Regions from separate parts of the Homo sapiens genome. Here region 2 is linked to region 1. The links come from fine-mapping of genetic effects on gene expression. A gene starts in region 1. The other region holds a variant in brackets. All regions are shown on one strand. Distances are between the middles of the regions.

Region 1 (4,390 bases):
AGTTCCCTCCACTGTAAATTGAGGATAATAATAGGTACTTTGCAAGCCTCATGTGAGGATTAAATGATAACGTATGTGAAAACACTAAATGGAAAAGCTGACCACAATTGCCCTATAAATCTTATTAAGTTCAAGCATTGTCCGGCTCTGGGATCCAGGGAACACCCACTTCTCTCTCGCTCTCTTTTTTTTTTTGTTTGTTTTTTGTTTTTTTGTTTTTTGAGACAAAGTCTCGCTCTGTCGCCCAGGCTGGAAAGTGCCGGCTAATTTTTACATTTTTAGTAGAGACAGGGTTTCACCATACTGGACAGGCTGGTCTCGAACTCCTGACCTTGTGATCCGCCCAACTTGGCCTCCCAAAGTGCTGGGATTACAGGCGTAAACCACCGCGCCCAGCCGGGAACACCCACTTCTAAATTCTCTATCTTATTCCCAGGGGACTTTGTCTTGACCTGGATACATGACCTCTTGCAATCATATACGTACGTCAGGCTTTATCCTTTTGCATTTTTGTGGTTTAATTTTCAAAACTCCAGATTGGCTCTTCAATCATTCATTGCACCAACTTTTATTAAGTACTTCCGCACGTACTAGGCTTCAAGAATACAAAAGTGCCTTCACAGAGCTCAAGGTCCACTGGGGGAGAATTTATCCTCTGTCTCCCCCACTGGAATGTGACCTCTGATGACAGGGGCCTTGTTATTCTTGCTTACAGCAAGTGGAATATTGCTTAAGCCAAAACATATTATTGCTAAATAGGTATTGAATAAACAAAGGAGTGTGTATGAGGGGCAGGTAAATCTGGGGTTGTGGCCCCTAACAAATTTAGCCAGGCATTTTTAGGCCAGGCACGGTGGCTCACGCCTGTAATCCCAGCACTTTGGGAGGCCGAGGTGGGCGGATCACCTGAGGTCAGCCTGGCTAACATGGCAACACCCCGTCTCTACTAAAAATATACAAATTAGCCGGGCGTGGTGGCGAACGCCTATAATCCCAGCTACTCGGGAGGTTAAGGGAAGAGAATCGCTTGAACCCGGGAGGCAGAGGTTGCAGTGAGCCGAGATGGCGTCACTGCACTCCAACCTGGGCAACAGAGTGAGACTTCGTCTCAAAACAAACAAACAAACAAACAAACAAAAAACATACTTAGCCAGATTTTCTCGCTTTTTGTTTTGCAAATTAGGAGTCCATCTGGTGGTCACAGGGGGAAAGGCATTCCAGGAAAGGATATAAGGATACAGAAAGCAATGGAAGAAACAGCATGATCTTTTCTTAGGGGTTCTTAGTCTCCTGTCCCCAAACTTCTTAGAGTTATTCCTGTTGGACCGGGCGCGGTGGCTCATGCCTGTAATCCCAGCACTTTGGGAGGCCGAGGCAGGCGGATCACAAGGTCAAGAGATAGAGACCATCCTGGCCAACACGGTGAAACCCGGTCTCTACTAAAAATACAAAAATTAGCGGGGCGGCGTCTTGGCGCGCGCCTGTAGTCCCAGCTACTCGGGAGGCTGAGGCAGGAGAATCGCTTGAACCCAGGAGGTGGAGGTAGCAGTGAGCCGAGATCGCGCCACTGCGATGCCGCCACTGGGCGACAGAGTGAGACTTCGACTCAAAAAATAAAAATAAAAAAGAATTATTTCTGTTTGTATATGTCTTCTTCTAAGGTAGGGAGGAGTGTCCCGGATTCTCAAGGTGTTAGGGCCCTGAGCTCTCAGAAGACCTCTCAGAGGAGGAAGAGACTTCTGAGCTGACAGGAGTTTTCTCAGCTTCTCCAGTTCGAGGATTCTTGTCCTATCCTCACTCTGATGTCCCCTCACATCCTGGAGGTCTCTGGGTTGCTCTTGCCCCATCCCGTCACTGGTGGGACTCCCGGGAGGTCACTTCCATCCCTAGCCCTGGTCTCTGCTCTGTCTCCACTCTCACTGCTGGAATGTTTCCCAGCTTGCTTGGCTGTAAACCTAAGGCAAGTTGCTTGCCATTTTTGAGCCAGTTCCCTCATCTACAAAATAGGAAGGATAATTCTCACCCCCCAAAAATTGTTGTGAGGGTTAAACAAAATACTGCAAAGCGCTAACCATAATTCGTAGCCTATAGTAAATATTCAGTAGGTGATGGTTATTTTAATTCGCCCTCTCTCACTGCCCCTCCTACCCTAGCTCTGGGAGCCTCTGCCTCCGGGAGCAGGAAATAGGGTTCCGGGAGTGGATTAGTTTTGGGTTTCACTTAATCTGGGAGGCCCTTCCGCAATCGGAGCCCTCACAGAGGCCAAACTGATATAAATCTGCTTAGGAGGCCTGATTCACAGACGCTACAGGATGGAGCGGGGCGCAGGAGCCAAGCTGCTGCCGCTGCTGCTGCTTCTGCGGGCGACTGGTTTCACATGTGCACAGACAGATGGCCGGAACGGCTACACGGCGGTCATCGAAGTGACCAGCGGGGGTCCCTGGGGCGACTGGGCCTGGCCTGAGATGTGTCCCGATGGATTCTTCGCCAGCGGGTTCTCGCTCAAGGTTGGGGCTCAGGCGTAGGTCCTGGAGAGGGCGGAGATGCGTGGGACCATAGAGCCAAGGATGATAATTCCGTGACTCGCCCTTGCCCCTCTCCTCGATACCCAGGTGGAGCCTCCCCAAGGCATTCCTGGCGACGACACTGCACTGAATGGGATCAGGCTGCACTGCGCGCGCGGGAACGTCCTAGGCAATACGCACGTGGTAGAGTCCCAGTCTGGAAGGTGGGGCGCAGGGGTCGAGGATCCCTTGGGGTGATGGTATGTCCCTTACCCTCTATTACATACTCCGTCGCAACAGGCAGGCTGGCTCCGCCAGAGCTACGGGGCAGTATAGACCGGGGAGGCGAAGGGTGGATGGAAGACCCCTCCTCCGCTCCTCGGCGGAGGTCGGGGAGCACCCAGCCCACCAGGTCATATACACAGCACTTGGCTTGGAAAGTCTCAAGGGCTTGGTGAATGGGGGGCCCGCAGAGGCAACGCATCTCCCTTTGCCTTGCAGCTGGGGCGAATGGAGTGAGCCGCTGTGGTGTCGCGGCGGCGCCTACCTAGTGGCTTTCTCGCTTCGCGTGGAGGCACCCACGACCCTCGGTGACAACACAGCAGCGAACAACGTGCGCTTCCGCTGTTCAGACGGCGAGGAACTGCAGGGGCCTGGGCTGAGCTGGGGAGACTTTGGAGACTGGAGTGACCATTGCCCCAAGGGCGCGTGCGGCCTGCAGACCAAGATCCAGGGACCTAGAGGCCTCGGCGATGACACTGCGCTGAACGACGCGCGCTTATTCTGCTGCCGCAGTTGAACGGCGCCGCCGCCGCCGCTCTCTCCCGGGCCAGGAGGCTAGTCCCACCTCTTGCTATTAAAGCTTCTCTGAGTTGACTTTGGTCTCGCCTGTTTATTTCATTTATTTATTTATTAATTTATTTATTTGAGACGGAGTATCGCTCTGTCCCCCAGGCTGGAGTGCAGTGGCTCACTCGGCTCACTGCAAGCTCTGCCTCCCGGGTTCACGCCGTTCTCCTGCCTCAGCCTCCCGAGTAGCTGGGACTACAGGCGCCCGCCACTACGCCCGGCTAATTTTTTTTTTTTTTTTTTGTATTTTTAGTAGAGACGGGGTTTCACCGTGTTAGCCAGGATGGTCTCGATCTCCTGACCTCATGATCCGCCCACCTTGGCCTCCCAAAGTGCTGGGATTACAGGCGTGAGACACCATGCCCGGCTGGTCTCGCCTGTTTAAGGGATGGGGAACTGAGTCTCCTTTTCCCCTCCTAACTTAGCATTAGGTGAGGCATACATTTGGATTTGGTCTCAGGGGTCTATGGTAGATTGCTGAAAAGTTATGGACTCGAGAAAAACGCACTTAAACAGATAATTTTCAGACAAGTGATGGAAGTCTGGCTTTTTTTTTTTTTTTTTTTTTTGGAGTCTCACTCTGTCACTCAGGCTGGAGTGCAGTGGTATGATCTTGGCTCACTGCAACTTCCACCTCCTGGGTTCAAACGATTCTTCTGCCTCAGCCTCCTGAGTAGTTGGGACTACTGGTACCCACCACCATGCCCAGCTAATTTTTGTATTTTTAGTAGAGATGGAGTTTCCCCATGTTGGCCAAGCTGGTCTCAAACTCCTGACCTCAAGTGATCCACTGGCTTCAGCCTTCCAAAGTTTTGGGATTACCGGCTTGCACCATCGTGCGGGCCCAGGAAGTCTGGCTTTCTGAGAGAGTCTGCAGACACCCTGCCCCCATTAGGTGCCTAGGTTGTCTCCTTTCTGAACCAGTGACCTAAGATTAAGAAAATTCTACCAAATTATGGCCAGATGTGGTGGCTCACAGCTGTAATCTCAGCACTCTGGGAGGCTGAGGTGGGTGGATTGTTTAAGCTCAGCAGTTG
Region 2 (4,390 bases), 27 kb after region 1:
CTCAGCCTCCTGAGTAGTTGGGACTACAGCCATGTGTCACCACGCCTGGCTAATTTTTTGTATTTTTAGTAGAGATGGGGTTTCACCATGTTGGCCAGGCTGGTCTCGAACTTCTGGCCTCCAGTGATCTGCCCGCCTCGGCCTCCCAAAGTGCTGGGATTACAGGTGTGAGCCACTGCACCTGGCCAATCAATTCTAAGTCACGTGTTTTAGCACATTTTATTTTTCCCAAAATTAGGATATATTGTACAATCCATGGTGTCATACAACATGGTAGGTTTTGCCTACACTTGTGAGAACCCAGTCGTAGCTGTTCGTATTGTTATCACCTCAGCTGAGTTGTGAACCCTACTGGTACTACACTTCTTGAGTTGAATTGCTGTTTATAATGTCTTCAAATAACACACAGTACCAATTACATTAGCACTGTCCCAAATTAAATACTTACATATAAATCTAACAAAATACGTATAAGATCTACATGAAGAAAACTACAAAACTCTGATGAAAGACATCGAAGAAGATATAAATAAATGGAGAGAGTCCATGTTCATATATAGGAACACTCAACATTGTCAAGATGTCAGTTCTTTCCAAATTGATCTGTATCTTCAACACAATCCCAATCAAAATGCCAGAAAACCATTTCATGGATATTTACAAACTGATTCTAAAGTTTGTCTGGAGGGGCGAAAGACCCAGAATAGCCAACACAATATTGAAAGAGAGCAAAGTTGGAAGATTGACACGACCCAGCATCAAGACTTACTACAAAGCTCCAGTAGGGCTGGGCATGGTGGCTCATGCCTGTAATCCTAGTGCTTTGGGAGGGTGAAGCGGGAGGATTGCTTGAGGGCAGGAGTTGCAAGTTACAGTGAGCTGTGATTGTGCCACTGCACTCCAACCTGGGTGACAGAGCAAGACCCTGTCTCTAACAAAAACAAACAAAAGGCCAGGTGTGGTGGCTCACACCTGTAATCCCAGCACTTTAGGAGGCTGAGGTGGGTAGATCCCTTGAGCCCAAGAGTTCAACACTAGCCTGGACAACATGGTGAAACCCTGTCTCTATTAAAAAAAATAAATAAATAATAATAATAATAATAAACCAAAACCGCCGGGCGTGGTGGCTCACGCCTGTAATCCCAGCACTTTGGGAGGCTGAGGGTGGTGGATCACCTGAGGTCAGGAGTTCGAGACCAGCCTCAACATGGAGAAACCCAGACTCTACTAAAAATACAAAATTAGCTGGGCATGGTGGTGCATGCCTGTAATCCCAGATACTTGGGAGGCTGGGGCAGGAGAATCACTTGAACCTGGGAGGCGGAGGTTGTGGTGAGCCAAGATCTTGCCATTGCACTCCAGCCTGGGCAACAAGAGCGAAAGAAACTCCATCTTAAGGGAGAAAAAAAAAAAAAAGTAAAAGGCTACAAGTATATGACTTTCTGGAAAAAAACAGAACTCTGAAGACAGTGAAAAGGTCAGTGGCAGCCAGGGGTTGGTAGGGAGGGGAAGGAGGAATAAACAGAGCACAGAGGATTTTAGGGCAGTGAAACTTCTTTGTATGATACTATATATATACTGGTGCGTCATTATATATTTGTCTAAACCCATGGAACGTGCAACACCAAGAGCGAATCCTAATGTACACTATGCGATGGACTTTGGCTGATAATGACGTGTCAATGTAGTTCACTGATTGGAACAAATCTATCACTCTGGTGCCGGATGTTGATAGTGGGGGAGGCTGTGCATGTGTGGGGGTAGGAGTATAAGAAAACACTATACTTTCGGCTAGGCACAGTGGCTCATGCCTGTAATCCCAGCACTTTGAGAGGCCGAGGCGGGCGGATCACTTCAGGTCAGGAGTTCAAGGCCAGCCTGGGCAACATGGTGAAACCCCATCTCTACTAAAACTACAAAAAAAAAAAAAAAAAAAAAAAAAGAAGAAGAAGAAAAGAAAACTCTGTACTTTCTGCTCAATTTTGCTGTGAACCTAAAACTGCTTTTAAAAAATAAAGGCTATTCAGCCGGGTGCGGTGGCTCATGCCTGTAATCCCAGCACTTTGGGAGGCCGGGGCGGGCAGATCACTTGAGGTCAGGAGTTTGAGACCAGGCTGCACAACATGGCGAAACCTCATCTCTACTACAAATACAAAAATTAGCCAGGCATGGTGACGTACACCTGTAATCCCAGTTACTCCGGAGGTTGAGGCAGGAGAATTGCTTGAACCCAGGAGGCGGAGGTTGCAGTGAGCCGAGATAACACCACTGCACTCCAGCCTCGGTGACAGCAAGCGTGTCTCTAAATAAATAAATAAATAAATAAATAAATAAATGCTATTAAGAAAAAAAATCTTCAAAAAGATAACATGCTTTAAAACAGAAATCAAAAGGAAATGATGTATTAAGCATAGAAATAAAGTAGTGGAGCGAAAATTTGTTAGTGAAGACATCAATTTTGTTGAC[A/G]CTATTTGGTAAAACAAGAATGTGTCACTAGCTTAGAAGAAAATCTCGGAGACAGTAGTGGAGCACTTTTTAAAGAAATTCCGCTTCTCCAATGCCCTCGACAGTAGAGGGGACAGCAACACAGGCACTGATAGAAAGTGATTCAGAAGAGTCAGACTTTAAAGATTTTTTTGGAATATTTTAACCATATTATTTTTGTTTTTGTGTACGCACCAGAATTAGATTTTTTAATGGTCTGAAAGAGACTTCAATTAGCATAAAATAAAAATTGAAGTGTTAAGAAAGCATTGTATCATGGTTTGGCCGGGTGCTGTGGCTCACACCTGCAATCCCAGCACTTTGGGAGGCCGAGGCAGATGGATCACTTGAGGTCAGGAGTTTGAGACCAGCCGGACCAACATGGTGAAATGTCATCTCTCCTAAAAATACAAAAATTAGCCGGGCATGGTGGTGCACGCCTATAGTCCCAGCCACTCAGGAGACTGAGGCAGGAGGATCGCTTGAACCTAGGAGACAGAGGCTGTAGTGAGCCAAGATGATGCCACTGCACTCCAGCCTGGGCGACAGAGCCAGACTCTGTCTCAAAATAAACAAACAAACAAACAAACAAAAGCATGATGTATAACACTTGAAAGTATTTAAGTCAGTGAAATGCAGGATCGAGTACCCTCTGTGTAATGTGCCTAGTTGTGGACCCAGTGGATACAGCACTAAACTTGACAGATGAGGTACCTCTTCGTAGTTTATATTATAGTTTGGGGAGACAGGCAGTAAACTAGAAATTAGAGGTTATGCTAAATTACATGAAGGAAATAGGGTGGTGTGGTAGAGAGTGACTGGGAGGCAGCTACTGGGAGGCAGCTACTCAAGATTTGCTGGTCAGGGAATCGGAACTACCCTTAGACCTGGACAGGAGGGGCTCTTACTTGGCTGTCTGCTTAGTTCAGTACTTCTCAAACCGTAACTTCATACAGATTTCCTGAAGATGGTGTTAAAAGCAGATTCCGGGCTAGGCACGGTGGCTCATGCCTATAATGCCAGCACTTTGGGAGGCCGAGGCGGGAGGATCACCTGAGGTGGGATTGTAGAGGAGAGCAGTGGAGGGAGGGAGACCAGGAATGAGAGTGATGCTTTTCTGAGGACCCATGAATTGCCACTGAAGGTGTTTGGCAATGTGACCTGGGGAGGAGTGGGGGTTGAATGCTCTCTGAGCAAGGCAAGGCCAGAGTTATCAGCTCCTGAGAACTAAGATCGACGTGAGGACCAGATGGAGTCATTAGAAGGGAAACCATCTCAGATGATGAAGATTGTTTGAAATCAGATTTTTCCATAGAAACCCTGCAAATATAGCCCTTTGACATTTCTCTCTTCTTCCTTCTCCTAGCTCAGACTCCTGGAGATCAGGAGACCAGAACTTGTTCACCCTCCTCTACAGTGAGCAGACACTGACATGCCAGAAAAAAAAAAATGCATTTGGCTGTAATATTTGCAAGACCCAAGAAGGTACTGGGAATAAATTTATTTCCATAGAGGAAGTGGTTGGTGTTTTATGAGAAAGGGCACTCAGTCTCAAAAAAAAAAAAAAAAAAAAAGAAAAGAAAAAAAACCCCAAATAGTTAGAAATGCCGAGGGAGACTGTCAGAAATATAATAGTAGTGGGAAACTGTAATATAATTCTCTTCGACAAAGTAAGAAAAATATACAAACGTATAAAGAAACAGAGAATCTCAATGATAAAGTTGATTGATTAGTTAGCCTCTCATTCAACAAATATTTACTAAATGATATGTGCCAGGCCCTTTGCTGGATACCAGGAAGATATCAGCCATAAATACATCATCGGTGAACATCCTGAGCCTCCATCCTCCTGGAGCATGTATTCAAGTGCTATTTACTTGACTTTGTATCTCATAAATGGAGAACC

What was found. PIP is the estimated chance that this variant, and not a neighbour inherited with it, causes the effect. A credible set is the group of variants that fine-mapping cannot tell apart.
Region 2: its variant is the best candidate, but not a certain one, in a credible set for the expression of VMO1 in monocytes after R848 (Quach 2016, PIP 0.64).

The regions. Positions count from the first base shown.
Region 1 is chr17:4,784,275-4,788,664 of GRCh38, reverse strand. It overlaps VMO1 (vitelline membrane outer layer 1 homolog), which reads left to right and starts at 2,301. Exons shown (of 3, transcript NM_182566.3): 1 at 2,301-2,507; 2 at 2,613-2,728; 3 at 3,006-3,380. The coding sequence starts at 2,313. The coding sequence ends at 3,303.
Region 2 is chr17:4,757,265-4,761,654 of GRCh38, reverse strand. No RefSeq gene overlaps it. Among named protein-coding and RNA genes, the nearest start is that of TM4SF5, 12 kb to the left of the region's middle. The variant A/G (reference allele first, on the strand shown) is at 2,467.